2 separate regions of the Homo sapiens genome follow, and region 2 is linked to region 1. Evidence: fine-mapped expression QTL. A gene starts in region 1. The other region holds a variant in brackets. All regions are shown on one strand. Distances are from middle to middle. Region 1 holds the start of UNC5B (unc-5 netrin receptor B). Region 2 overlaps UNC5B (unc-5 netrin receptor B).

Region 1 (15,356 bases):
AGTCGCAGTTTAAGACTTTTGAAAGCCAGGTACAGTGGCTCATGCCTGTAATCCCAGCACCGTGGGAGGCTGAGGCAGGAGCATTGCTCGAGTCTAGGAGCTCGAGACCGGTCTCAGGCCTTTGGCCACAGACTGACATGGTGTCACAGAGTGACATGGTGAAACCGTGTCACTACAAAAAAAAAATTAAAATCGCCAGGTGTGGTGGCATATGCCTGTGGTCTCAGCTGCTCAGGAGGCTTAGCTGAGATGGGAGGATCATTTGAGCCCAGAAGGTCGAAGCTGCAGTAAGCCTTGTTCACATAACTGCATTCCAGCCTGGGTGACAGAGACCCTATCTCAAAAACAAAAGACATGAATTGTTTCTGGAATTTTCTATTTAATATTTTTGGACTTCAGCTGACTGTGGGTACGTGAAACCTTGGATAAGGGGGGACTTCTGCACATAGTGACAGCTTTGAGTCCTGCTTACACGATGCCAGCAATGATGAAGAGTCATTAGGAACAGCAGATCTAGAAGCAATTAATAAAAAGCTAACCAGATCCAACTTTTAGTTCAGAAGAAATCGATTTGATAACAAAAGAGTTGAACAAAGAGAAATCTAAATATTCTAAACCAGAGGTTGGCTGCTGAAATTTCAAGAAGGATGGGATATTTGACAAGGGGCACTCCCCATACGGCCATTCATCAAGGAGTCAGAAGACAACAGAAAAGAGTTTTTCACCTACCTCTCCTCCCGCACACACGCATACTCCACTTTGCTATAGGGTTTCTTTCCTCTGCCTCTTCCTTCAGTAAAGATCTTTATAGCCAATGTATCCAGGAGGACAGTCCACAGCACGGGGACCTCCTCTTCCTCCTGGTCTTTCAGAAAGCATCTGTGAATCACCTTCAGCATACTTGCCACTGGAAGATATCTTTGGCATTTATCCTGAAAATAATAGTGAATTATCTTCAGTGCTGACTCAGCTTTCAAAAGAGCCTGCTACTGAAAATCCAGAACTACAACAAGAAACGTGGGAATTTTGTCTCTTCCAAATTTATTTTTAATTATCTCTCATTTTTAGTTTAAGGAAGTGCTATACCTTCAGTGATTACACTTCTGCCTAAATGAAAGCTTCACAGTATTATAATTCTTGAGCTAGTGTTTTGTAAATAAAGCTGATTTACATATTAATCCCATTGAGTGAATTATTTACTTTATCTTGTACTCTCTGGATAGTATAAATATTGTGTTTAATTTGATTAAGGGTCCATGACACATGAACAATACTGGAAGTATCACATGCACAATGCTGAAATTGAATATATTTGAAATGGCAAAAGACATTTTTATATGTCAAAAGGTGTTTCATTGTAGTTTTAGGACAAATGTGAAGTGGCCTGATGTTTTTATTAGACAAATTAACTTGATATTTACCTGAATACATTTAAATTGGAATGTTTAAAACAATTGAGAGTGAGAAAGTTTAATAGGACTATCTCATTATTTTAAGCCCTGTTAGACTATATGTAGCCTCTGCCCTTCCTCATCCCCCTACACAGATAACTCCCCATCCGTAAGTCCAGGCAGAACCTTGAAAAGGTTGGTAACGTGGACTAGTCATAAGAATGTGCGTCTAAAAGCTCAGGGTCAGTACTTACCAGCTGACCTTAGACAAGTCATTTTCCCTTTTGGAGCTGTGGTTTCCTTTGTCATAGGCCATGATTAACACCAGCCTCTAGGAACAATTGAGATGATCAGTGGGAAATCATGTCATTAAGATAAAAGAACTACACACAGGGGATTTAAAGAGGCAGCGTCTTGTGTTTGTTTAACATATAAGCTTAGAAGCCAACAGCCTAGGTTTGATTCTAGCCTCAGTTTCTAGCTAAGCAGGGAAACCAAGTCTGTTTTCCCATTTTTAAAAGGGATGGACAAAGGGATGATTTCATCACTCAGAAAGTCACAGAATTTAAGACTTATGAATTGTTTTGCTTTTGGAATTTTTCATTTAATATTTTTGGACTTCATTCGACTGTGGATAACTGAAACCATGGAAAGGAAAACCGCAGATAAGGGTGGGGAACTTCTGTACATACTAATGGCTTCTAGTCCTGCTTAAAAGATACCAGCAATGAGAACTACTTTTTAATGGGGAAAATCATAACATCTCCTCATGGGTAATCATGGAGAATGAAGGAGCTAACTCAGACGGAGCTCTTGGCAGGGTTTCTAGCTTGCTATAGTTGCCTGTGCGATGGTTAATATTAGGTGCCAACTTGATTGGATTGAGGGATGCCTAGAAGACTGATATAGCATTGTTTCTGGGGGTATCTGTGAGGGTGTTGCCAGAGGAGATTAACATCTGAGACAGTGGACTGGAAAAGAAAGACCCACTCTCGATGTGGGTGAGCACCATCCAATCAGCTGCCAGTGTGGCCAAAACAAAGCAGGAGGAAGGAGGTGGGATAACCTTACTTGCTGGGTCTTCTAGCTCCCTTCTTTTTCCCCTGTGCTGGATGCTTCCCTTGGCTCCTGCTGCCCTCGGACATCAGACTCCAGATTCTTCAACCTTTGGACTGTGGGACTTGCACCAGTGGCTTGCCGGGGGCTCTCACACCTTTGGCCACAGACTGAAGGCTGCATCATCTGCTTCCCTGGTTTTGAGGCTTTCGGACTCGGACTGAGCTGCTACCAGCTTCTCTCTTCCCCAGCTTGCAGACGGCCTATCATGGGACTTCGTCTTGTGAGCATGTGAGCCTATTCTCCCTATATACATACATATATCCTATGGGTTCCGTCCCTCTGGAGAACCCTGACTAATACACCCAGCATACACTAGCTAGCATGCTTATTTCTTAAGATATTGACCACTCCTGTAGCATCAGTCAGTCCTGTGCTCACTGCTATGTGCTGGGAAGTCCACAGGGACCTTTAACTCACCAAGTCCAAACCCAAATCCACCACCCTCTCCCCAGCCCAGCCATCCTCCTCCTTTCACCATGTCTCTCCTTGCAACCTCTGCCACTCGACCCAGCTCCCCTCCCTTCCTCCATCCCTAAGTACCCACCCTCCCTCAGGCACCAAATCTGGGGAACTCTTTCTCCCTCTGCAGAGTCCCTACTTTCTGCCACCTGAATCCCTGGGCCAAGGCCCCATTGTCCCAGGAGCATGCAGTGGCCACCTTGTTGGCTCCTGCTCAGTCTGCCCTGACATCCAGCTGCAAGGAAGCTCCCATGGCACAGCTCCAATGAGGCCTCTCTCCAGCTCAATCAGCACCCATGACTCCTGTTTCTTACAGAATCAAATCTCATCTCTAGCACTGCAGGCCTTGCCCTTGTGTAGAGATTTTTCCCTTCTTGGCCTTCTGGTGTGCTGTTTGAGGGGCAGTATGAGGATGTGGCCACCTCCTGACCATACCATCACATACATAACTCTAGGCCTTTGCTCACGTGGTTTGCTCTGCCTGGACTCCCTCCTGAGTTCTCCATGTTTAAGGTTTCCTTCTCACTCCTAGGTCTAGCTTCCAGCATCCCCCACTCAGATAAGCCCCCCAATCCCCACCCCCGGCAATGCCAGGGCATGCTAGCTACAGCCTGCTGCATGTGCCAGCTCTGGCTCAGCCTGCCTTTTCTCTGCCCCATAAAGCATAAGCAGGACTGGATACATAATCTCCAGGGCCCAGTATAAAGTGGAAATCAGAGCCCTTTTTTCCAAATTATTAAGAATTATGAAATGGATAAATCCTAGTTGAGGGACATTCTACAAAATACCCAATGAATAATTCTCAAAAGTGTCAAGGTCATCAAAAACAAGGAAAGACTGAGAAACTGTCACAGCCAAGGGGAGCCTGAGGAGTCACAATGACTGTATGCAATGTGGGATCCTGAATGGGATCCTGGAACAGAAAACAGAAGGACATTAGGTAAAAACTAAGGAGATCTGAATGAACTTTAGCACATAATAATGTATCAGTGGTTCATTAATTGTAGTAAAGGTACCATGCTAATGTAAGAGGTTAATAATTAAGGAGACTGGGTGAGGGGCATATGGGAACTTTCTGTACTATATTTGCAATTTTTCTGTAAAACTAAAACTCTTCTAAAATGAAAAGATGGCCTTTTAAACATTTACAACAATAAAAGAATTTTGAGAAGGTGACAGCAGAGGCGATAAATAAGTTATAATGTCCAAGACAGAATTGAGATTTGAACCCGGATCTGCCTGAGCCCAAGGCTTTTGTGACCAACGGCTTGCATTGCCTGAACAGCAGTGAGAAGACCCTGGAGGGGTTGGTGGAAAAGACTGGGTAAGAAGGATGGAAGGAAGAAGGTTGTCACAGTACTTAGTAGAGGTTAAGAGTCCAAGTTTAATGACCCAGGCCACATATAGTATGATTCCATTTATATGAAATGTCCAGAATAGGATAGAAAGTAGATTAGTGGGTGCCAGGGGCTGGGGGAGGGGAGAATGGGGTTAATGGTATGGGGTTTCTTTTGGAGGTGATAAAAATGTTCTCCAATTAGGTAGTGGTGATGGCTGCACAACATTGGGAATATACTAAAAACCACTGGATTGTGCACTTTAAAATGTTTAAAGCGGTACTTTTTTTTTTTTTTTTTTTTTTTTGAGACAGAGTATCACTCTGTCGCCCAGGCTGGAGTGCAGTGGCACGATCTCGGCTCACAGAAAACCTCTGCCTTCTGGGTTCAAGCGATTCTCGTGCCTCGGCCTCCCGAGTAGTTGGGATTAACAGAGCACGATACCATGTCTAGCTAATTTTTGTATTGCTAGTAGGGATGGGGTTTCGCCATGTTGGCCAGGCTGGTCTTGAACTCCTGACCTCAAGTGATCCGCCCGCCTCCGCCTCCCAAAGTGCTGGCATTACAGGCGGGAGCCACTGTGCCCGGCCGAAGAGATTTAGAATAGTACCTGGCATATAGTAAGCACTCAACCTTAGCTCTGATAATATTATTACAAAGAGATGGTAAAGCGTTAAGGACTTCAGCTTTAGGCGCTTCCCTTCTCCAGGGTCCAGGTTTTTGGGGTCCGTTCTGGACCGAACGACTCAGGGGAGGCACCGTGAACTCATTCCCAAGCCTTCCCACTCAAGATCCTGCAAACGGAGTCGTCTGAGTGCCACTTCCCCTGACAACCCGGGACAAGGACTCTGTCAGGGCGGCCCCAGGCGGGGTGGGGCCAGGACAATTCTCCCATCGCCGGAGGAGGGAGACTGGCGGCCACGGGGAGGCGTAAGCGGCAGCGCGCCGCCTGGTGGCACCTTCGCGCACACGGTCCCGACGGAGCGGGAGGCGTCAACCCCAAGCCGGCAGCCACTCCTGCCGGGAGCCCCTACAGCTGCTTTTAAATCGTAATTGTTATCAAATAGGCGGTTTTTATACAGCCAGATTATTGGCCTTATTATTCTTCTTAATACTGTGAAGTAATTATTATTCCTGTTTTACAGTTGAGGAAACTGACGCTGGGAAAGTTTCAGTAACTGGCTTAAGATCCGCCAGCAGGTAAGAGCAGCCCCCAGGTTTAGGGCCACAGCCCTCCAGATCCAGAACTCTTTCCTACACACTCCTGTGGTTTGAGACAAGTGATGGTAGCCGCTGGAAGCATCTGCAGTCCCCACCAAGGGTGAGAACTGGCTCTGGGACTGATTTCAAAGCAGATCTATGCCACAAAGCCTGCCCTACTTTCAGCCTCAGAACCCCCAGACCCCAGGAAATAGAGGGGAGGGGAGGGTGGGGCTCACATAGCAACTCTTAGGCCCTTTGACCATCAACCCCTTTCCCCCCAGCCTTATTGATGTACCCACTCAACCAAGGTTGATTGCATCCCTGCTATGCCAGAAACTGTCTTCAGTGCTAGATATATCATGGGGAACAGGGAACACAGGGCACCTGACTTCAAGCAACTCACTGCTTCGTCCTCATGCTTAACTCCCAGCAGGATGCCTTTGCTGTGAGGCCCATGGCACTCGGTTTGGGAACACCCTGGCAAATCTTAATCCTGCTATCCTAATGTGTCATCCCCCAGGCAGGGACCCTGCCCATTCTTCACCCATCCCGGGGAAAGGTATGGCTCAGGGGGAGTCTGACTCCCTCTGAAGCCCCTTGCCTGGCCTCAACTGACAGCCTGCACTCTTGAGATGCCAGGGCTGGAGAGGAACCACATCTGCAACTGCTCAGCTGCAGGTGGCTAGAGAAGGCTCAGAGACTTGGTACAGGAGCAGGGGCACAGAGCAGTTACAGAGAGATTCCCAACATGCAAAATCCCATGCCCTGATGCTGGAGTCCTGGAGGGAGAGCAGGGCCCGGGACCTCCCAAGAGTATATTTCAAGAGTTGAGAGAGTGGTTAGGCTGAGAAGGGAAGTGGGGCAGGGACTGGCAGGAGAGGGGGTAATGTCTTCCTTTTGCTTGCCCCCATCTCCAGTCCCCCTTCTCTCCACCCAGGAATTAAAGCCGTGAAACCTGATACTTGGACTAGAAGGGCCTGCTGGGTACACTTTACCACCTAAACAGCAAAGTTCCAAGGGGTGGAACTTTTTAGAAAAATCTCCAATACCCCACTGGCCTGAAGGAGAGAGAGAAAGAGGTTGGGGAGAGAGAGAGAACATGCTGTGGTCTCTGCATGCTGCCCGTCTCTGCTGAGGTCCCTGCTGAGCTCTCCAGCACAGGCACAACCTTGACCATGTGCCTGCATCCAGGGGATGACCGTCAGATGTGGGTCTTGGCACAGGCGTGCCTGTATGTGTTTCCTGGCAGTAGTTAAGTATCCAAATATCTATTTGTCTTGGGAGTCATCTGCCTATTTGTGTTTTTAGTTGTGTGCGCCTGTGTGTTTGCTTTTTTTAGGCATACATCTTTGGTATGTGGGTGTCTCTGGAGTCGGGTGCCTATTTGTAGGTGTGATGTTTATGGGAGGTGAAACATTGCACCTGTTGTCTTTGTTGTATGTTTTCGTGTGTGTACCTTTGCAGGTGTGTATGGGTGGGTAGTTGTGTGTGTGCATGTGTATTTGCAAGGTGGAGTTGGTTTGGGTGTGCTGAGCTGTTGACTGTCTCATCCACTGCCCTTGCTAGGGCTGTCAGAGGCCAAGCTAAGCAACCTACCTTTGCCCACAGCAGCCTTTCTCAATTGATGGAAGTTCTTCCCCCAGGGAGTCCCAGTCCACCTGTTGCCACCCTCCTGATGCTGGGTGCCCAGTCAGAGAGGGTTAGGGAGATGTGCTGATGGCATGCACGACCTCCCCTAGATACTCCAAGACCCCGGCTTGTGAGGGGAGTGTGTGTGGAGAGGGTACTAGTCCTGCCTTCACCTCACCTCTGGGGAAACAGCTAGGACAGTCCCCTTCGCACAGCCCAATCCAGCCCCAGGGAAGGTGTTCAAGTGAGGCTCCCCCGTTTAGAGGGTTTCTTTCCAATCCCATCTCCCCCATCCCCTTTGCTCAGTCACTCAGTCACTCCAAGCAGTGTGATCTCCGGCAGGTGGCTTTACACCTCTGTGCCTCAGGTCCTTCATCTGTAAAATGGGATGTAAATGGTGCTTACTTCAGAGGGTTGTGAGAATTAACTGACATGATGCATACAGAGTGCTTAGCCCTGTGCCTGGCACAGGGAAGGTCTTTGCCTATGTTAGCTGATCCGCTCGTTCTGATCTCTCTGGGTTTCAATCCCAAGACACTGCCCATCCTTCAAACCTCACCTGTCCCCACGTGCTCCTTGGACCACCTTTGGGTGGTCAGGACTTTCCCCCTGGAATCAGACTGGCTGGGAGGGGAGAATCTTGGAAAGAGATTATTGACACTTGCACTGCAATTTCCACACAAGTTTTAAAATTTAATTCTATACCCCCTTATGAAATAGTTATCCTTTTCCTCCATTTTACAGATGATGATGAAGGGAGCAATAGAATTGTTAAGTAACTTGTTCAAGGTCACACAGTAAATAAGGGGCAGAGTCCAAGTTTACACTGAGCCAAAAATGGCTGTCCCACTGTCAGGTAGGAGGCTAGTTTACAACAACGCAGGATCAGAGTGCTGGAGGGGTTTCCAGGGGTCTGGTTAACAGTTCTGCCGGAGATCATACAGACAAGCAGAGCCAGCCAGGATGATCCTAATCTATACCCAGCTTCATATCGCTGTAAGCCCCCGCGTAACCAGGACTTGGGTGTTCTCATTTTGGGAGCCTTTTTTTTGGAAAGACCCCCACATGTGGAAGGCAGAGCGCATACTACAGACAGGGGAGCCAAAAGTGAGAGTCCTATGTTTAATCAGAGGAGAAAGCTGACATGGCCAAGCCAAATGAAGGCGCAAAGCCAGATTTCCTTAATTTGGGGGAGCGAAAATTGGGCCGCCTCCACGTCCAGCCATTCTCCAGCGGCCGGGTTTTTCAAAACGCTGCGCCCAGCGTCTCGCGAGGACCCTCCCCCCGGGTCCCCCAGCTCTGCCGCGGCCGCGCCCAGATGGCCGTCGGATCCCCCCTCAAGGTCCCCCTGTCGGCTCCGCCCTCGGTCGCCCAGGCCCCGCCCCGGCCGCGCGCGGTCCCCTCGGTTGGCGAACTCACTCCGGCGAGCGAGCGGCGGCGCTCGGCATTGTGGCAGGCGGCTGGGGCCGGCTAGGGCGCCGGAGCCGCACGCAGCCGCGGGGCTCCGAGAGGCGCGCACTGGGGCTGGGACTGCGCGGCGCCGCCGCTGCGAGCGCCACTGAGCGGTCGCGCAACTTCGGAGGCACAGCGCCGGAGCCAGGCGAGCGCTCAGAGACCCGGAGCCAGAGGGGCGCGCCGGAGCCTCGTTCGAGAGCCGGCGCCAGGCACCCACCGCGCTCCGAGTGCCAGGCGGCCCTCCGCGCAGCGTGGCTTCCGCTGCCCCCACGGAAGGCACGGGCTGGCGCTGCCGGGCGCCGGGGAGGACGGCGAGGAGGAGGCGGCGGCGGCGGAGACGGCGGCGGCGAGACTGGGGCCAGGGAGACAGCCCTGGGGGAGAGGCGCCCGAACCAGGCCGCGGGAGCATGGGGGCCCGGAGCGGAGCTCGGGGCGCGCTGCTGCTGGCACTGCTGCTCTGCTGGGACCCGAGGCTGAGCCAAGCAGGTAGGAAGCGATCGGGTCTGGGGGCGCGGGGCTAGGGGACCCTTGCGCCTCACTCTGTCCTGAAGTTGAGGTGGTCTTTCGTCGCATCGATGCGCGCAGGAAAAGCGGCAAGGGCGCCCAAGTTAGAATGTAGATTTTACTGCCTCCCAAAGTGGGCAATGGCGCATCCACATCGCGGGAGCGGGGAGCAGGGAAGGGGCTTCACAGTAAGCTGAAAGGTCCCTGCTCGCTCCTGAAAGGGATCCCTTCTTCTCCCTGGAAGGGGTGTAGGAGTCAGGGTCTGAGTCTCCGGGAGGATCCGCCTCCTGGGGACGCCCGGCTCTCCGCGCGCCTGGCATCCGCCCCGAAAAAGAACATTGGCTACATAAGCAAGGTGTGCGCTCGCTGCCGTACGCCGGTAACTTACTAGTCTGGTCCCGGCTCGCCTAGGCTCTTACGCGCTATAGGGACAGCAATCTGCAGACTAGAGGGAGAGAGCGAAAAGACCTGCTGAACACAGGAAGCGCTTCGGTAGCCTCGGCAGGCCGGCTTGCAGGGCTCCTGAAGCGGGGAGGGCTAAGTCTTGCACACATAGCTTTCCCCGAGATCGCTGGGCCCGCAGGTCTGGAAGAATTATTATTATTATTATTATTATTATTATTATTAATTTTCTGAGTGTTGGAGAGTGTGTGTGTGTGTGTGTGTGTGTGTGTGTGTGTTGGATGCGGGTAGGGGTTCTTAGCGATCCTGCGGAGTTTCCTTTTAAATTGGTCACTGACATTCTCGCTGTCCGGGGAACAGACTAGGTGCGCTCTCCTTGGTACAGCGCCCGCTCTGGACCCACCAAGATGACTTCAGCGAACTGGTGGGCTCCGAAATAAAGTCCCTAACCCTCCTCTCTCGCCGTGGATGAATACGTTTCTCGCTCGTCCTGTAGCTGGACCCGGCGTCGCTGGCTGGGCTGCGTCTTCTCGGGGAGGCTGTGGACTGAATGGAGCCAGCCTCTCTCTGGTACCCGAACCCAAGCAAGTGGGCTGGCCACGGCTGCCGGGCGGCTCGGCTCCGGAGCCAGGTGGGGACGGGGCCTCCTGCACGGAGTCCTCTCTGAGTTGAGGCTGAGAATGGAGCAGGAAAACTGGAGCAGAAAGTGGACGAGATGACGCAGCCCTCCCCACCTCCTACCTCCTGCTGCGAAGTTGACATCCGCCCTTCCCCCCTCCATAGCCAAAGATTCCTCATTCTGGAATTAGTGATTCCCACGGCCAGGAGTGAGGGCTTGGCTTTAGCACATTCCCCACTTTTTTTTTTTTTTCTGGTGCAAGTCCTGTGCAGTAGAGTTACAACACTCAACCATTTGATCCAAGTTAATTATGATTTGGGCAGACTCTGGTATTTAAAGCAGTGTTTTGAAGTTGGAAGGTAATGATGGGGATGGGGAAGGCAGGCTGCTGAATGTCCAACCTTGTTTTAAAGGGTGCAGTTAGACGTGGGAGGTGCTTGGTTGGGGTGCTGGTTTCTGGTTGGAGGGGGTTTGAGGAGATGATTGAAGGGTAGGGTGAAGTCTCTGTAAATGGCACATGGGCAGGGTTGTGTCTTGGGAAGCTGCTTTTGTACCAGCAGGACAGTGGGATCAGGAATAAATACTTAGGTTACCAGGAATGAGGGGCTGCTGTAGGAGAAAGACAAGACTGGTTGGCCTATAGTTCTCTGGGTGGGTGGGCTTGGCCAAGAAGGCTGGGGGTGGCCTGCATTTCCTGCTTAACAAAGCATCCAGCCCCCACCTTCCCCAGAAGAAACCCCAGGCCCAGGGCTTTGATGGATTTGGGCACGAATGGTGCCCAGTCAGAAATGGCCTCTAATACCCGGCTTTGATTTCTCACCAGCGAGCAGAAGCGGTGTTGGAATTGTGCTCATTACTTAGTGCGGCAGTAGCTGCCTGCCCACCAGCCTGGAGAGGGGCCAACTGGTGGGGTCGGCCTGCAGCCTTCTCATTGCCCAGAATGTGTGGCCCTTAGAAACCTGCCTTCAGGAGGGAGAACATGTCCCTTCCTCCCACACAATCTTGTTTTTCTCTAATGCCACAGGCACAGAGCATCATTCTTTCAGAATGTTCTTTGGGTTTTTCCATTGGATCCTTCACAAGCTCCATTTCACTGATGGGGAAAATCAAGGCCAGAGTGTTGGCTTTCTCCAAATCTTGCCTTCACTTGGCCACAGATTGAAGACATGTGAAGGGCTCCTGTCCAATAGCCAGACTGATTCAAGCCCAGCAGACCCTCCCTCCTATTCTTATCCACCCACCCCTCTGCCATGAGACTCATAACAGACTGAGGCAGGCGAGGCTCTCTCTGCAAAGAGGGATCTTTACTGGGGGTGTCCAAGCTCCCCTCAAGTGGCAGGCACCTCTCTCTCCTTTTCCCCACCCCACCCCATCCCTGGTGAATATGGGAATGAGCTCCCTTTACAGCACTGAGAATATTTTTAAGCTGTAAAGTCTGATGCTGGAGAAATCAAAACTGGAACCATAAAACCCCAGACCCTTAGAAGGTAATGTCAGCAAGTGACTAGCCAGAAAAGGCCACTTCAAAAGCTCTGGTTGGCCCTGGAAATCTCCTCCCACCCCACCTTTCAGCCCTTCCTGGAGCTTTTAATGAGCCTTTCCATGGCCTCTGGCTGGGATGGTTGAGAAGGAGTCGAGGTGTCAAGATAATACTTCTTTTTAAGGTGCAATTAAAATCAGAGTTTTTGTAGTGTCTCTGCTTGGTGTGTGTGTGTGTGTGTGTGTGTGTGTGTGTGTGTGCTCGCGTGCATGCGCCTGTGCACACACAATGATAGCCTGTCCTTGTCTCCCTCTGCACTCACTGTAGCAAACACCCATCTCACTTAAACAAATGGAAAATCAAGTGTCTTAATGGGTTTTCTCATTAAAGTGAAAGTACCACTGCAGGGGAGGAATTTCTCCTGTAATCTCTCTCCTCCACCTCTCTCCCCTCCCCCACAAACAGGGAATTCTGTAGGATAAAACAGTTCCCCTCTTTTCCAATCCATTTATTTAACTGTTGACACTTTGGGACAGGCCAACTTGCCCAAGGTCACACTGGGACTCACCGGTAGCGCCAGGACTTGAACTGAGGCCTCACAACCTCAATCTAGTGCTTCTAGCTCCTTCATTCCATCTGGGCTGGAGACCCACCATCATGGGTGTGGGCTTGAGACTCTGAAATTGAGGCACCACTTAAGGCAGGCAGCTAAAGATAAGATCGCTTTGATGGCTGCTTTAGACTGGAACTCATGGCAGGATGGAGGAAAGAGGTTGAGAGTTGGAAGGGTGAAGAGGTGTTCCAGGAGAGGGGGAACAGGGCAGAGCCAAAGGTCAGGAGTGAAGCTCTGAGACCAGGCAAGTGCCCAAAGGTGGCTCCCCCAACCCCCAGCATTGGCCTCCTGAGCAACTGCCCTGACCTGGGGAAGGGAGACAGGTCACAAGCCAAGCTCCCTTGGGCTGCATGGCCAAATAAACATTAGCATTTTATAGCTCTGCACCCATTTGTAGAGTTGGGGACAGAATATGTTTTTACTTTTTACTTATATTCAAAGCTTTAGGAGCCAGTGCCCTCCCCCACCTTTGTTGTTGAGTTTCTCCTGGACCGCAGGTCTAGTGACCCTTTTCCTGGGTGTCAGGCTTAAGACGAGGTCTGCCTCCTACGCCCCATTCCCTGAGCCACAGAGGTTTTCTAAGGAGGTTTGTGGGCTGCCTAAGACTTTGGGGATGGGCTGGGGGGAGATGGATCATTTCCATTCCAAGTGCTCTCGGACCAGGTTAGTGATTCTGAATAGACAGTGCTGGTACCTCCCTCCCCCAGGGCCTGCAGGCAGCCCGTCTTTTGACCCTCAGAGTTGGGGTTGGGTGGAAAGGAGACAGTTTGGAGGCCACTGCCGCCTTCAGGAAAGGGCAGAGGGGGCTGGGTCATAGGCTGGGACTTGGGGGTGGGAGCCTGGGCCCAGGGAAACTGCTGCCTGGGCAGATGGCCCCCAGAGGGTAGGGAGGAGAAAGCCGGCGCTCAGGCCAGAGCTGGCGCTTCTCTTGGCGTCCTCCTCCTTCTCCTCCTCACCAGTTTCCTAAACAGCTTCCACAAATAGAGTCATTAAAGCTGTGAAGGCAAAATGAAACCAAACAAGTGCGTTCTGTGCTTTTCTGTTTCTTATTTTTTTAAGGAAATTAAAAATACCGTAATTAGAATAATACAAGGAGAGAACACTTTGCGGAAGGCCTAGGGTAAGGGCACTTCCCACCCACTGGGTTGGCTCAAGAGGTTGGGACTGGGGCGCCACCTCCCGCCCCCTTAGGGTCTGCGATCCGCCGGGGGCGCCGCGGGCTTTTCCGCCGGCTCCATGCATTTCCCTGAGGCAGGATCTTTTTGGGGGAAGCTGGCATCCCGGCGCTGGCCTCGGCCCCCGACTGGGAGTTGGGTGGCGCTTGATTGGAACTCCGGCCCGGAGCCGCCTCAGCCGCTGCGCCCCCGCGGGCAGACAAGCCCGGGCGGAGCGCGCTAAGCCACAGGTCCCCGCGGCGTTCCTCCCGGTCTTCGGGGATGCTAATGGCAGCGAAAATATTTGCTGAAGTGCAGGCATAAATCAGCCGCCTCCCCGCTCCCCCACCCCCACCCCTTTTGTTTCCTCTTCCTTCTCTCCAAAAGCGCTGGGCTGCTGGGCGCCAGAATTTACCTTTTCCATCTTAGCGGCCTGATTAGCATCGCCGCCGCTTGTGGGGCTGGATTCTACCCTCTCCTGCGTCCCCCACCCCCAGTCCCCATCTCCACCTCCCTCCCCAGCCGAGCTAAATCGGTCTGCGGAGCCCCGGGAGCTCTAACGCCACCGCCTAGCGAGTGAGTGCACGGAGCCGCCCTCCTTCTCACCTCCCAGAACAGGCTGCCCCCAGTGCTTGCAACTTACCCCTTCGCGGCGCTGCACGGCTCGGCTCACTTCTCCAAGAAGGCAGGCTTGTGGGTGTGAGAGTATGTATTAAGGAGTGTGTGGGGGGTGAGAATGTGTATTAAGCAGGTGGGCGGAGGTGGGAGTTTGCAGGGAGGGGAGGGTGGGTGTGGTGTTGCACTGGGGTGTCAGGTGTGTGTGGGGGCGAGGCATGGACTGGGTGTGTGCCGGAGGATGGATGTGTGTTTGAGGAGGGTTGTGCCTTTTGTAACTCAGGAGGTGTGATGTATAGGCTGTGTCTGTGTTTGGGTGTGTGTGGGGTGGGCAATGTCACATGGGCACACTTGTGGTGTGTTTGTGTATAAATAGGTATGTGTAATGTGGAGACAGTGAGTCACCACCAGGCATGGGAAGCTCCATCCATTGTATTCCGTTGGGGATTCCACTTCAGGATGGGACCCAGGCCATTTGCCCATCAGCACTTAAGAGACCTCATTTTGCCCCACACCTGCACTGTGAGCAGGGTTTGGCCTGAGTGCCAGGTTCTGCTGTTGGAAGGGCAGAGGACAGCTTCCCCTGCTGAGTGCAGATGGGATAGGCCTGCCTGCAGGTGGGTCCTGGTGCTCCAGGGGGAGGAAGGTTGGCAGAGATGGACCCTAAGCCAGCCCAGCAGCTTGGGCTACTGCCCCCAGGAAGATCAGAGTCCCAGACCTGGAGTCTTCTGCAGTCAACTCCCAGCTTCCCCAGAGCATGGGAGCGGCTGTGGTTTGGAGATCTGCTCTCTGACCTGGGTCAGCTTATGCTTCAGCCTGTCTCCCCCAAAGGGAGTGAGTTCTCCTCTAGAGTTTGCTGGAGAAGGGGCCAGCAGAGCTTGAGTGGGTGGGATCCCCAGTGGAGAACCCCATCTCAGGCTGACGTGGCTGGGGCCTGGGACTCTCAGCGGTAGCAATTTAAAGAGGACAGACACACCCACACACATGCTGGACTCCACTGTCGTTACAACTTTCTTGGTCACAGAAGCGCTTACCTGCTTTCCCAGGGCTGTCCACAGGAAGGACTTCCATCACTTCAACTCTAGGATAAGATGGACTGTTCTGGAGCAGGGAGGCCTATAGGAAAATCACAGTCCCTCGCCCCACCCTGGTGTGCATGTTGCTTTACAGTTTACAAAACCCTTTTATATGTGCAGTCTCACTTTGTCCTTGTAAGAACTCACCGAGAAGGTGGAAGCTCTCACTTAGAAGGCTGAAGAGACAGGACTGGGACCCAGGTTTGTATTAGTCAGGGTTCTCTAGAGGGAAAGAACTAATATATATATAAAGGAGAGTTTAGTAAGTATTAACTCACACGATCACAAGGTCCCACAATA
Region 2 (15,356 bases), 21 kb after region 1:
GACAAGAGTTTTAGCCACTTCTCATCCATCTTTGTGCCCCCATACCCTGACCCCATTGCACACCCCACATCCCAGAGCGGAGGAGGCCCGGGTGCCACGTCAGAGAAGGTTAGTGTCAGTGCTGGGTTTGATACTGTCTGAGCCAGCACACCATCTGCCATGCCCACCAGAAGTTACATAATCCCTCGGCCGGCTGCCCATTCTTAGAAAACGGGGCAGGCAGGACCAGCAGGGAGTAGAGAGTTAGAGTTTTCTTCTCTGCATTTTGTTCCCTCCCAGCCCACCACATCCCTGGACCAGTCTTCACTCTCTGAGTTGCTCCCACACTGTTCAGAGCCTGAGACGTAAGTGCCAAGGCAGAGAGAAGCTCAAGTTGGAAGGGGACATGGGTCTTGAGGACTGCTTGCCACCGTGCCACACAGACTTGAGGACACCCTGCAGACACTACCTGCTGGCAGCACACCTGGCTGGCCACACCTTGCCAGCCCCTCACACGGCTCCTCTGCTGAGCCTGTGGTGGGTTGAGGAGGACCACTCAAGCTTCTAGGACAAATAGAGTCTCCTCCTCCCCACCCCCTAGTTCCTACAGAGATATTATCTTTCCAAAATCTTATCAGATCATAAGCGTTTTTATTTATTTTTATTTATTTTATTTTTTATTTTTGAGACTGAGTCTTGCTCTATCACCCAGGCTGGAGTGCAGTGGCACCATCTCGGCTCACTGCAATCTCTGCCTCCCAGGTTCAAGTGATTCTCATGCCTCAGCCTCTCAAGTAGCTGGGATTACAGGCGCCCGCCACCACACTCGGCTAATTTTTGTATTTTTAGTAGAGATGGGGTTTCACCAAGTTGGCCAGGCTGGTCTCAAACTCCTGACCTCAAGTGATCCGCTTGCCTCGGCCTCCCAAAGTGCTGGGATTACGGGCATGAGCCACCTCGCCCAGCCCATAAGCATTTTTAATAACTGAATAACAGCCAGATAACACCACCCATGTATCATTAGGGTCTTTGGAATCACTGAGACCCAAGATCCCATCCTGTCTCCTTCATTTGCTGGCTGCATGATGTTTGCCAGGCAACTTCACTCTTGTTAGTCCCGGTTTCCTCATCAGTGAAGTGGGAATCATGAAGCCTGCTTCCCAGAGCTGCCTTAAGGATGGAATCAGATAATACTTGGAGAGGATGGAGAAAGTATTTAGTGATGGTAGCTCTGATCAGCAGCATCCAATTCCATTCTCTCTTTTTAACATCATGACCAGATCTGATTTATTGCAGGAATGCAAGAGTGGTTCCAAATGAATTCGCTAATATTAATAACATGCCATATTAATATCATGTTCCATATTAATGAATCTGAGGAAACAAAATCATATTATTATCTTCATAGATGCTGAACAAAGCTTGGATAAAATACTACACTAAAAGAAATAGGAATTAAGGGATACTTTTCAGATGAGATAGATAGATATATATACCATGGAATACTACTCAGTCATAAAAAGGAATGAAATAATGGCATTCACAGCAACCTGGATGGAGTTGGAGACCATTCTTCTTTTTTTTTTTTTTTCCTTGAAACGGAGTCTTGCTCTGTTGCCCAGGCTGGAGTTCAATGGCACAAAATTGGCTCACTACAACCTCCGCCTCCTGGGTTCAAGCAATTCTCCTGCCTCAGCCTCCCGAGTAGCTGGAATTAGAGGTGTGTGCCACCATGCCCAGCTAATTTTTGTATTTTTAGTAGAGACGGGGTTTCACCATGTTGGCCAGGCTGGTCTCGAACTCCTGACCTCAGGTGATCTGCCCGCCTCAGCCTCTCAAAGTGCTGGGATTACAGGTGTGAGCCATCGCACCCAGCCAGAGACCATTATTCTAAGTGAAGTAACTCAGGAATGGAAAACTAAAAATCATATGTTCTCACTTGTAAGTGGGAGCTAAGCTATGAGGATGCAAAAGCATAAGAATGATATAATGGACTTTAGGGAGATGGGGGAAATGTGGGAGGGGGTGAGGGATAAAAGACTACACATTGGGTACAGTGTGCATTGCTTATGTGATGGGTTCATCAAAATCTCAGAAATCACCACTAAATAACTTATTATCCATGTAACCAAATACCACCTGTTCCCAAAAACTATTGAAACAAAATAAAAATAAAAATAAATTTTGTATACATACATATATACATATATATACATATATACATATATATACACATATACATATATATACATATATATACACATATATACATATATATACACATATATATACACACATATACACACACACACACACACACACACACACACACACACACATACATACCCTAGTCCTAAAGCTGGTATCTTATTTAATGGGGAAACACTAAAGGTACTTTCAGTAAGATCAGTAATAGATACCCTGCTGGTATTCACCTCTGCTAGTATTCACCGCTAGAGGTATTAGCAAATGTGATTAAATGAGAGAAGTCAATTAGAAGCATTAGAAAGGGGTAAAGAAGAAGTAAAACTATTCCTGCCAGATAGTAAAACATACTGGAAAGCCTCTGTAATTAAAACAGTGTGCTTACTGGTGTGTGAATTGGCAAATAGACCAAAGATAATAGTAAGTTCAGAATTAGACCCAAATGTCTACGGAAATACAGTACATAACAAAGGTGGTATCACAGGTCACTGGGGTTAAGACAGACTTTTTAATAAATGGTGCTCGGACTACTGGGTAGCTATGTGGGAAAAGGTGAAATTTGATTCAAGTCTCACACCATACAGAGAGATGAACTCCAAGTGGATTTGGGATCTAGATGTAAACAATGATACAACTACTAAATGAAAACATGGGTAAATTCCTTTTTAAACTTGTGGGTGGGAAAGGCTTTCTAACTATGACTTAAGATCTAGAGGCAATAAAATAAAAAAACTGATCAGTTTTATTACATGAACATTTTTAAATTTTCGACAAAAAAAAAAATCACAGAACACCTTAAACAAAGTCAGAAGACAAAGTACTTGACAAACTGAGAGAAATATTCCTAACATATGCCACAGACGAAGGGCTGATATTTATGGTATATAAAGTGCTTTTAAATATCAAGGAACAAAGGATCAAGCCCTCACAGAAAGGTGGAAGAAAAAGACACGGACAGACAATGCACAAAATAAAATAGAACAATGACCCTCGAACAGACTTACTCAGAATTAGATAAACACATATTGTAAAACAACTACAAGATACCATTTCTCATTTACCAGACGGGAAAACATGAAACACTGTGGCCTCACATTCAGTTGTGGAGGGGGCTTGAGCACCCGAGGGGCACCCACGGGGCCTCCTCTGTGCCCACCTTGGCCATTGTGTATGCATTGTCTCACTCAGTCCTTGCGATGGCTCTGGGAGGAAGGTCTTAGCAGAAGAGCAAACTGGGGCTCAGGAAAGTGAAGTGACCCACCCTAATCTAGCTTTTAGTGTCAGGGCCTCATCTGGGTTCAGCCCTAGCCTTTGGACTCCAGATTCGGTGCTCCTTCCATGAGCCCACCCTACACCCACTCCCCAAGGCAGGGACTGGGCCTTATCCCCTGCGCACCTCCCTCAATGCCCAGGGAGTGCTGGATGCTCTGGAGTTGCCTGTGGAGTGACTGGGCGGTGAGGGAATCGAACTTGGAGCTGCTTTATAAAATGCAGACTCCTCCACCAACGTGATTGTTGTCTCGCTAAAGAGCTGTTGATTGATGGACGGAACTGGCACTTTCCCACAGGCCAGTCAGCCAGCCTCAGTCAGCCCCTTTCCCATTTTAAGGATTGGTCAGAGAGAGTGGGTGTTTGTGGGTGCATGGGGAGCAACAAGCCCCAGGGGCAGATCAGCTGGTCTGCTGGAAAAGAGGCTGAGCCAGACCTCAGCTCCTATAGAGAGCAGAGGAGACCCTGGGAGGATGGTGGGGGCATGATTGCCGGAAGGTCCTGCTCCAAGCCTGAGAATTCTGCTTTCCAGTCAGTAAGTTGTTTATTACACCCTTGACAGTGTCCTCCTCCGCCCCTGCCCCTGGATCCTGAGGAGCCTGCAGAGGGCGGGGCAGGGCCTGCTGAGGGTCTGACCTCTCAAGGGAAAGGGGTCGCTGGAAGCGTGGATCAAGCCATCCACCCTCCTTCCCATCACGGCCCACTGGACCAGAGCGCTTGCCCGAGCTCCCGGAGGCCCTGATCTCTGCTGGAAGGGCAGGCTAAACAGAAATTCCCTGGGACCTTGGGGCATCTCCCTCTCACTTCCCTGGACTTCCTTTCCAAGGCTCCTTCTAGGGAGTTGTTGTGCTTCTGGGGCAGGGCGTGTAGTTCTCAGAGCTTCTTAGGAACCGCAGTCTTGCAGACCCTATAAAGGGGTGCATGAGGGCCCCGTGTCCCTTGGCTTGAGTAAGAGCTGGTGGTGAGAATCAGCCCCATGCCATCTCTGGCTGTCCCACCGTCGCTGGTCAGGGTGATGCCTGTTGCTCCCAGGCACAGAGCGCGGCATGCAGAAACACCCTCTTATTGACTCTGAGCTTCTCAAGAGCCCCACGAAGTCATCAGGGGGAGTGTTTTCACTGCCCTTTTATGGCTGGGCAAACTGAGACAGAGCTACCTCCTGACCTACACTGTTATCATCTGACTTTTCACCCCTACCTCCTCCTCTCTGCTCTTGCCTTGGTTTGGTAGCTGAGAAAGATTAAGAAAAGAAGCATTGTAGACCATTCTAGATAGTCCTTCAAGGACACCCTGTCTTACCTCCATGTTTTCCCTAGGGGAACTCAGCTGTGATTAGGAGGAACCTGAGGGCCCTCACTCTGATTGGTCAGAGTGAGGAGGGGTGCAGGCCTGTTTGGGAGCCAGGAACTTACCTCCACTCCATGGCTCAGCGAGGGAAGCTGCTGACCCCTGAACACACAGAGAAGCCAAGGCCAAGCAGGTTGAAGACAGGCAGTCCCTAGCCTCTAGCCCTCCTGGCTATACCACAAACGTGGACATCAGACTGAGCAGAGCAGGCCAGTGGCCAAGGTCAAAATTGCTTTCAATGTCCTGTCCACCAAGTGACCTGTGGACCTAGCCTGCCTCTCTGGGGAGGGACATTCCAAAGACAACCAGCCACCTTCTCTCTGCCCTCCCCACCTCATCAGGCCTCCGGCCCTGGGTATGTGGGCCTCCCCCCACATCCCTGGAGCCTGGCACAGCCTCCCTTTGGATACTCACCATGGGTGGACAGCTGGGACCAGCCTTCCCCATAAGGGAAATTCTAGATCCCACCAAATTCCAAATTCCATGGCCTTATCTGGCACCATTCTGTCTGGCCTTTCATGGGTTTCCTTGTGTGGGAGGAAGGACCTCCCGCCCACAGAAAGATTATGGGGCAGGGAAGCAGGGAAGTGGGGGTTCCCCACCTTCCCACCACTCAAGCTCCCTGGATGTGTCACAGACTTGTACCATGGCTGGAACACACAGGTTGTTTATATGGAGAGCAGCCAGGAACAGGGATTTGGGGTGTGGCTGGGGGTAAAGACAATGGGCTTGACAGCAGCAAGCCACCTCCATGGTGAAGTCATTGTCCCATTTAACCCTGTCAGAGCAGAGATGCTACAGCAAGGCAAATCACTTCCTCTCTCTGAGCCTCAGTTTCCCTGTCTGTTAAATGAGGGGGTTGGACTAGTGAACCATAGGATTCCTTATATGAAAGCTATATAAGCTGTGCATCGTAAAGTCCCCTTAGCCCAGCAGCCTATAGAATTTCCTGAGGGGCAGAAGGTGCCATTGTGACACCCACTGGCCTCTTCCAAGCATTTCCTGCTGGGCACCCTAAAAATACAGTAGGGGTGAGGTGGGGGTTGGCGAGAGTATGGGCTCGGCCATTGCTAGAGTCGTCATTTCACACATCAGCAAACGTGCCTCTGGAGGGAGTGCTCTCGCACTGAGCTTGGCGTGGCTGGCTCCTTGTCATCCAGGTCTCGGCTCCAATGGCCCCTCCCCAGAGAGTCCTTTCCTGGCCCCCTGCCTCTTTTACTCTTCTTCCAGCACTTCTTGCCATCTGGAATGGTTGTTTGAATACAGACTTATGTGTTGACTCCCCAGCCTGGGAGCGCAGGGCTGTGTACGCTCAGCAATGTACCCTAAATGCTCAGAACGGTGCCCAGCACACGGTGGGCCCTTGTGAACAGGTGCTTAGCAAACGAAAAACCACAATCGTACGTAAAAATCTTAAGAGTTTTTTTTTTTTAATGCACATGCCTGGCCTTTACCCTAAAGGTTCTGGTTTAGGGACTGTGGGCCAGGTTTGGGCATATGAATTTTGACAAAACACCCCAGGTGATTCTGTGGCACACTTATGTTAAAAAGAGACTAGCTTGGTCATTCTCAACCTTAGCTGGACAATGGGATCACCTGGCACCTAGGTCCCACCCAGAGATCCTGACTTAATTGGTCTTGGGTTCTGGCCTGGCCGTCAGGATCTTTAAAAGTCCCCCAGGTGGTCCTCTTGTGTAGCTGAGGTAGAGGACCCTGGAACCTGAGGATCTCCAAGGCCTCTCTGATCCAAAATTCTGCATTCTTGGAAAGCCCTGCAAGGTTAAGCCACTTGTTCCACACAGCAAACTGAATTCTCAAATGGGGAAACCTCCTTGTTGAACCCTCCTGCAAAGATGAAGAAAGGGATACCCTTTTTGACCCTCATAGATGAGTTGAAAGCATTGCCAGAAGCCTTGTGGCCCATCTCCGATGACTGCCCAGGAACTCCCAGGAATGGCCTGTGGCTCTGTGCACAGCCCCCCAGCACCTCCTTTTCCTGGCAAGCCAGCTGAGCTGTGTCAAAACCTATCTCATCTCCTCCTCTGATAGCACACAGTTTTAAATAAGATCTTCATTTACCAGAAGTTCACACCACCGCGTATGTGTTATATGAGAAGTAGCAATCTTGTGTTCATGAGGGAAATGCAGTCAGGGAGGGTGGAGGAGAGCCGATTGCAGAGGGAGTGCACAAGGAGGGAGGAACTCGTGGAACCTGAGCTGGTGGCCCAGCCCCGGCCCCAGCCCCAGCCCTGGCAGTGCCATGCTCCTCTTGGCTCAGCACGGGGCTGGAGGGGGAGGGGCTCCCACTTTGCAAGCTGACCTCAGCTGCTGGAAGGCTTGGAGCAAATGGGCATGTGATGTCACCGTGAGCTCCGCCAGTTGGCAGCCCTGGCCTTGCTTTGGGTCATTTACATGTCTTCAGTTGGTTAAGAAGGAGCTCTTACTGCCGATTTATTAGTTGCCGCCTGCCTAGCCTTGGTAGCTGTGATAAGGAAGGGGTTTAGGGGCCATGGATGGATGCCAGTCCCCCATGGCCATGCTGCCTCACTTCCCAGCACAGCCTGCCATGCAGCATGTCAGTGAATAAACCAATTCCAGTAGGATGGGGCTTGACAGTTTCCAGGGTGTTCTCATGCAGTCCTCCCAACCACTCTGTGAGATGGGCATGATTACCTTGCTCGTGGAGAGGAAGAAACCAAAGCTCAGGGAGCTTGAGTGCCTTGTACACAAAGCTGCGACCTTACTCCAGGATTTCTGCCAGCTGTGTCTGCACCTGATGGGGGACTTGTGGGCAGGTCGCTGTCCCTCTGAATGTGGTCTGCAGTATTTCTACTTCCACAGCACTTGTCCATTCTGATGGCCTAAATGCCAAGAGAACAGGGATCAAGGACCAGTGTGCCCTGTGACCTTGAGCAAGGTTGTTTCTGCCTCAGACCTCAATTTTCCCAAAGGTAAAGCAAGAGTTGGACTGGGTGGTCTTCCAGGAAGGTAGGACCCCTCGGCTTTTCGTTGCAGGTTTTCAAGTGTGTCCTAGCACCGAGGAGATGAGGATCCTGAGGTGGCCCCATCCCGGGGTCCTGAGGTGGCCCCATCACGGGGTCCACAGTACAAGGTCAATGCACTTGTAATAAATATTGAGCCAACCAATGCTGAGCCGCATCCCTAGCCTCTGAATAAATAAAATGTTGCCCAGAATAACAGCCCGGAAGATGCTGGCGGCTTCAGCCAGCTCTCACCTTTGCCTCTCCCACTGGCCAAGCCTGTCACCCGTCCCTATACTCCCTTGTCTCCCCCTTCCCTCTGCCTCCCCACTCCACGGTCCATCACTCTAGCTCCAGAGGTGGCCACCGTCCCAGCCTGGCTTTAGTTTCTAGCTCTGCAGCCTGCATCTCCCTCTCCCAGCCCCTCAGCTGCCACAGCAGTTAATGAGGACCAACCCCTACAGATGGCAGCTGGGAGACAGGCCAGCCAGGTTCTGGTGGGGCTGGGGTGGGGCACAGGGAACTGGAGGTGGGGCACAGGGGAGTGTGCCTTTAATCCCCAGCACCAGACAGAAGCCTTTCCTTCTTTGTCAGGACCCTTGCTGGCATTTCCTCCTGCAGCCCATCCCTGGGAGATGAACTGGTCCAACTCCTGCAGGAGGCCAGCCCACTCTAACTGCTCTTGGCTGAGGCCGCCAGGAGATTAGAAACAGGGTCCACAAAGGAACCTGGTCCCAGGGTGCTCCAGGCCACACAGGCACACTTGATTTGATGCTTCTCTGCCTGATGAGTGTGCAAGTACAGTTA[T/C]ATGTGTTATATGGCTCCCTTCTTTTTACGGTTCAAGTTTCTCAGGGGCAGAGCCGGTTAGGTCAAGTGTGAAGTTACAAAATGTTAGCACTGAAGAGATATCTTCCTCATTTTATAGATGAGGAAATTAACCTCGGGGGTGGGGGGCGGAGATAAGGACACTTGCCCAGGGTCACACAGCCAGGAAGCAGCAAAAGAGCCTGGATTTGGAGCCTGATTAGGGCCTGTGCCCTTGGCCCGCACTTGACACCGCCCCCTCCAGGGGCTTTTGCTGGGGCCCTCACGGAGATGAGGCTTCATTCTTGAGATTCAGGCCTGGCCCAGAGAAGTCCAAGCCAGGGAATCGAAGCTTCTTGGTCCCAAGGTTTATGGACTGCCCTGGGGAAACAGTACCCCATCGGAAAACCTGCTCTCTGCTCTATGAAAAGGACCTTCACCATGTTGTGGGGTTTCACTGAAAAGTATTCTGGGGACCAGCATAAGAAGCAAAGCCCCTTGTATGACCTTCCTTTGGTCTGTCAAGCTGTGTGAGAACCAGCAGGGAGCCCCTGGGGTGGGAAGCTCAAAGCCCCAGGCAGAACACACCTTCCCTTTGCAAGGCACTTTCTAGATGGAATCCCTGGGGAGAAGCCTAATAGCTCAGTGCAAGAGGCGTGTGGGGTTTCATCCCCATTCTACAGGTGAGAGCACCTAGATGCAGCTAGAATACTTGGCCAGAGTCTTGTGGCTAAGACAGTTCCCCAGCCAGTTCCAGGCTGCTGGGTCTGGGGGCCCTGCTGCCTTGTTAGGAACTTGGGAGACTTGGAAACCTGGGCCTCTCTTCCTCTGCTCTATTTGCAGAGGTCCCAGGGTCATTCTGAACACATCAGGGAGACTCATCCTAAAAGCTGGGTTGAGGGGACAGGATTTGGCATCCAGATCCCCTCCCCAGCAGGCCAGATAGATTCCCACTGGTCTCCTGGCCCAGAAGGAGAGGCCAGCCCTTCCCACCCCCAGCGCCCAGGGGGGCCCCTCCTCCCCCGGCCTGGCTGCAATGCCGGGCCCCTATTGCAGGACTCGCTGCCGCTGCCTCTGACTCTGCCTCTGCCTCTGCCTCTGCCTCTGACAGACATCCCGCCCCAGAAGATAAGGATCCTGTCTGGCGCCGGAGTGCTTTTTTTCCTCCTTCTTTCCAAATCTGTTCCCTGATTATCTGCAGACAGCCCCTCGCTAGGGGAGCCACCAGGGAAGGGGCCCAGACCACAGAGAAAGACAGGAGGGGTGGGACTAACAGGCCTGCAGCCACCAGCCCTTCTGAACCCCTCTGGGGGCTTGATGGTCATTTGCTGAGCCCCCACTGTAGCCAGAGCCCTGAACTCAGCAGAGAGCTGAGGACTGGTTTCCCTGGGTGGGACTGACCCACTTCAGCGGGAAGAAGAGGGTATGTGGACTGGAGGTTGTGCCAGCGTGGGCTGGGATGGGGACAGAGGGTGGGGTTCCTTCCGTGGTCAGCGTTCCTCAGCCTTGGGCCTGGAGAGCACCCAGAGGGGATGTGGTAGAGGCTTCAGCCAGCCAGACGGCCACATCCTGTGGGAGACATTGGCCCTTCCCAGGCCAGACGGTGGGAGGACACTTAGGGACTGGTAGGGGGGTCCTAGGGGGTTCCCGGAGCCCAGCCTCCAGCCCTGAGGACTGAGCTTAGAGAATGGCCAGGGCTGGTGTGGCCTCTTGGCCTCAACCTGAAAAGGAAGGGCAGCTCCCCACCAACTGGGCTTCAGACCAGGCACCATTGTGGAATTCCAGCCTTAGAGTGCCCAAGCCGCTGAGAGCCCTAGAGAGCACCTGGTCGCATCTGGGCCATCTATAGACAGAGGGACCCATGTGGAAGGCAAAGGGATCATCCCCACCTCGCCCACTGGCATGTCAGGAGCCTGCAGCATGGGTCCTACTGCCCTGGGAGCTGGGAGCCCTAGTTCAGGTCCACACTCTGCCACTAATACGCTGTGTGACGTTAGGCAAGTTCCTTTCCATCTCTGGGTCTCACTCGTCAACTGTAAACTGAAGGGGCCTTCTGGTCGGGGCAGGAGGGAACAGTGGAGATCTGAGTCCAAAGACCTTTCCAAACTTTGTCAAACTCCTCAGGGTTGTTGTAAGATTCAATGAGATATTGAAGGTGACACCTTGGCTTACAGTAGGTGCCCCATAAGTATGAGTATGTCCAGCCCTTGACAGCTCAGACTAGGGACCTCAGGACTGGGCAAAGCCTGGGCAGTTGAGTTCCCCTCTGTGAGAATGTGCTTGTGTAGCCTTAGAGAAAGACCCTACACCTTCCCTGCCCCCAGCATCCCTTGCCATGCCCGCCCTGCCTCACCTAAAACATGTGGGGGAAGGGAAGCAATGCAAGATCATTTTTTATGGCTTCCTGGCCCTGGAGCCAGAGGGCTGAGGATCGGGTGGTGTGGGCCGGATTCCTGAGCCCCCCTTCAGAGCCAGCTCGTAAATATGAAGCCGGGGCAGGGAGGAGCTGGCTGTTAAGCTGTCAGCAGAGGCCCATTTAGAAAGTCGTAAAGCGTTTCTCAGAGCTCCTCAGAGCTGGGACCCAGGGCCCTCCCGCCCCACACTGACCGGCAGTGGCCTCCTCATTCATGGGTGCTGGGCTTCCCTGCCCGAGCCCCCACTGGAGACTCCCTGGCTCTTGCCATTAGCTGTGCCTTGGTTTCCTCTCTGTGCAAAGGAAGTCTGCTCTGCTTCTCCTCTGGGAGAATGGATGGGGAGGTCCAGTGAAGCCCTCAAGAGGCCAGAGGGACCCTGGTCCTGAGAGCAGTGAACCCCCATATTTATCATTCCCTTCTCTGTGCCTCGCTCCAAGGGGACCCAGAACCTACCCCCAAGGAGCTCACAAAATTCCACTTAGGAATGAGAGAAGATGCATGCCCCTGAAGAGAACGCCCACATTTTCTCCAGCTCAGAGGAGTGAGCTCCACGGCTGGGATGTGGAAGGCTTCCTGGAGGAGGTGGAGGTGTAGATGGGGGCTCCAGGGTATTCAGAGGTTTGGAGAAGAGGCAGGAAGCACAGGTGGTGGGCAAACAGGCCTGCCTGGGCGGAGGGTAGCTAGGATCCCAGGCTGGGTGTGGAATAGCAAAGGCCACAGAGCCTGTGAGCAGAGGCCCACTCTGGGGACCAAGTGCACGTTCCCTAATGACCCCTGTTTGCCTGGTCACCAAGACTCGTGTTTATGTGGAAAAGCTCTGGCAACAGCATGGGTTCAAATACTACCCTCCCTGCTTCCAAACCACGTGTTCCTGGACAGTTTAGCCCATGTGAGCCTCGTCTTCAACCACAAAGTGGAATTAATAGCAATCTACCCCATAACGTCTCCATGAGGTTTAAATGAGATTTTAGAGAGAGAGCCGTCTCACTCAGTGCTTGGGCATTTTTGGAGTTGGTTAGCCTGGGTCTGAAACTCGGCTCTGCCTCTTACTGACCATGTGCCCTTGGGGTCACCTCTTAAGACCTCAGTTCTCTCATCTGTAAAGTGGGGGTAAGAGCAGTGAGACGTCAATAAGTAAATACACGGGAAGTCCTCAGCACAAAGCTGGCAATCCTGAGTGCATTAACTATTATTATGCAAGGTGTTCCTGCAGCACCTAGTGTGAAGGAGGTGCGGTGAAGTCCGTATTGGAAGCCTCCTGCCTCCATCTCCAGCCTGTGGCCTCTATAGGATCGGGAAGGAGGTAGTTTTACTGGGAGCAGAAGTGGTCTTTACTAGGACTTTGTAAGTCCTTTATTCTGTCTCAAGAAATATTTGATGCTCACCTTAAGGCAAGTGGAAATGGTAAAACCTCAGCCAGTCCATTTCCCTCATTGGTGATGAGCCAGGTGAGCCTGGGGGAAGAGGTGTGGTACCTGGAGCTGGGGAAGATGAGGAAGGTGGGGAGAGGCTCCTGTCAGGCAGGTAATTGGGGATCAAGGGGCTTCCTGTGTCTTCCCACAGAAGGGGACGGGAGACAAGGCAGCTTCCACTGAGTCGCCTCATTAACTTCGCCACAAATAGCCCAACAGCCTGTAACTCCCTCAGGCAGAAATCTGGAGCTGTTCAGAAGCTAAATAAATAGGAGTGTGATCATTAAAAACTAGAGGTGCTGGGAGCCCCCCTGCCCTGGGTGGAAAGCCCGTTTCCTGTTGGAAACACCAGTCTCCCTACCATTTGGAGCCACAGGAAGGGGTTGCTCGAAGACCTCAGGGGTAAACTGTTCTGGAGGGTGCAAAGGGTCCTGAAAGTCAGGCAAAATCCCCACAACGCCCACCCTGCCCAGGGCCCACTTCTCCAGAGTGGCTCTTTTCTTCCCAAAGTTTCCAGTGACCCCAAGTTTTGTTGCTCACACTCACTCCTGTTCTCAATCCTGTCACTCAGAATGTCTTGTGGTTTCTGATTAGCGATAGGCCCTGCTGGACGTCTGAGGCCTCGACTCCATGCTTACATTTGCATTTATTTTTTTTTAGTCTCACTCTGTCACCCAGGCTGGAGCTCAGAGTCGTGATCTCAGCTCATTGCCACCTCCACCTCCTGGGTTCAGCTTCCCAAGTAGTTGGGATTACAGGCATGAGCCACCAGGCCCGGCTACTTTTTGTATTTTTAGTAGAGATGGGGTTTCACCATCTTGGCCAGGCTGGTCTTGAACTCCTGACCTCAGGTGATCTGTCTGCCTCAGGCCTCCCAAAGTGCTGGGATTACACACCTGGGCAGCATTTTCACTCTCTTATACATATCCTCAGAAGCTTAATTATTATTACTATTTTAAAGACAGGGTCTTGTTCTGTTATCCAGGCTTGAGTGCAATGGCGCAATCATAGCTCACTGCAGCCTCGACCTCCTGGGCTCAAATGATCTCCCGCCCCAGCCTCCCTAGTAGCTAGGACTACAGGTGTGCACCATCATGCCTGGCTAATCCCTAGAGGCTTTAGACGAGGGAGTTAAGGCTTCTGCCTGCTCAGACTTAGAAATGGAGGCCTGGTAACACCCTGTTCATTTCCCTGCCCTTGAGCTGTCCTGGGATGGTGGAAGAGAGGGTGGGTTCAGATTTGAGTGGCGTGTCTCCCAGCCACCCTAAGCCAACCTCTGCCCCCACAGTGCCAGTGACCCAGGGAAGACTGACTTATCATCTCCCTCAATGTGCCAGAAAACCTCTCAGCTAGTAGATACCTTAGTGTCCAGGGCTTACTTGCGTTGGGATGGCATTGGGGGTAGTGGGGCAGGTTTTAGCAGCGGCCTTGGGAAGGGGAAACATTTTCTATAAAGGAACATTAACAGAGGTGACGCCCCACCCCCAGGAGAACCTCGTTATGAAGAGGGGGTGCCTGAGGTGGCAGGAGGCCCCAGGCACAGGGAGGGAATGGGCCTGAGGGTGGCCATCGAGTTCGGGTGGGTGGGATGAGGGTCGCCCGTCCTGACTGAGCAGTTAGGGGCTCCTCATGCATGTCACTGGCTGATCACTTAACCTCTTGGGCCCTGTTTCCCCATCACTAATAGTTCCAGCCTCATGGGAGGCTGTGCATGTTAGTCAAAAGGTCCATGCCAGGCCCTGCCCAGCGCTGAGGTTAGCTTCTGGTGCTTAGCTGCAGTGGCCCAGTCTGGAGAGCCCACTCCACCCCCAGTCCTCTGTTCAGCAGTGCAAGAGCAGGGCATCCACGGGGGCGGGCAGTGGGCACACACCCCTGCTGGATGGGTGGGAGCCCCAGAGATTATAAGCAGAGCATATGGTGGCTGGTGCCAGAGGGCCCCTGGGTGACCCTGAAGCCCAGATTCCTCCGGTCATCTTCACAGGGTTCCCTCCTGTGATCTGCATGTGAGCACACACACATCTGGATTTGGCAGACCCTGTATATATACTAAACCCCTGGGCCTGCCCTCGGGAGGCTGCCCATTCTGTGAGGGGACTGGCCTTGGGCTCATGGAGAAATAAACAGGTGCCCAGTGTGGGGTGCCTGGAGGCAGGAAAGGCTGGGCTGGGGCTCCAGGCGGGTGAGGGAAGGTGGCATGTTAGCTGCTGTTCCTGCTGAGCCTTCCTTCCCTCCCCACCTACCCCACCCACCCTCACGGTCTCTCCATTCTCCACCTCAGAAGCCCTGCTGCAGGAGGGAGTCCCGGAGATTATGAGCCGCGCTTCTCGTGTGCCAACCTGTGCCCCCTCCCCCCATGGGCATGCTCACTCTTCTGCCATGCGGCCTGCTGCATTTTTTTGGATGACTTGGGCAGCTGTTGGTGTCCGGCCCAAATCTGCATCCTCTGGCTTCTGCCCACTGGCCCAGGCCAGCCACTCACCACCAAGGATACTTCAATTCCTCTTCTCATGTAACCTCTTGAGCGTGATACCCCTTCTCCCAGTAGGGGGGACCCCAGTAACCCCAGGAAGGAAGGCAGGCTCTCAGGGTGGACTAGCCATAGTGGTGATGCCCGTGGCCTGCCTCTGATAGGCACAGGCCGTGGGCACAGGGCCAGCAGGGTGGACACGGGTGATGAGGCCTGGAAGGTCCAAACCCCATCCCTCGCCCTGTCTTCAGACTCCAGCCTCCCAAGGGGCCCTCACGATCGCTTCCTGTTAGGGTCACGGCTGAGCAGAGGCTACCAGCAATGATTTCCTCCCGGCCCAGCAGCTGCCCGCCGCCTGCTCCTCCTCCCCCACTGTCGCTCCACTACTCGGTCTCATTTCTAAAAGACCTGAGGGGAGGATGGGGGCAGGAACAGCAGAGGCGTAGCTGATATTTCTGGCTGTCCATCTGTCTAGCTT

Evidence for each region. PIP is the estimated chance that this variant, and not a neighbour inherited with it, causes the effect.
Region 2: its variant is fine-mapped to the expression of UNC5B in whole blood (INTERVAL, PIP above 0.99). The same link has a PIP of 0.9 or more in monocytes after LPS.

The regions. Positions count from the first base shown.
Region 1 is chr10:71,203,986-71,219,341 of GRCh38, forward strand. UNC5B (unc-5 netrin receptor B) reads left to right here and starts at 8,585. Exons shown (of 17, transcript NM_170744.5): 1 at 8,585-9,079. The coding sequence starts at 9,001. UNC5B-AS1 (UNC5B antisense RNA 1) reads right to left here and starts at 14,243. Exons shown (of 2, transcript NR_038453.1): 1 at 14,009-14,243; 2 at 13,239-13,650. RefSeq lists silencers at 5,286-5,345, 8,486-8,745 and enhancers at 8,347-8,641, 11,612-12,231.
Region 2 is chr10:71,225,429-71,240,784 of GRCh38, forward strand. All of the region lies in intron 1 of UNC5B (unc-5 netrin receptor B), which reads left to right. LOC112268061 (a long non-coding RNA gene) reads left to right here. Exons shown (of 2, transcript XR_002957083.2): 1 at 1-15,356. Among named protein-coding and RNA genes, the nearest start is that of UNC5B-AS1, 15 kb to the left of the region's middle. RefSeq lists enhancers at 7,068-7,578, 7,624-8,377, 9,886-10,637, 10,646-11,393, 11,394-12,140. The variant T/C (reference allele first, on the strand shown) is at 8,589.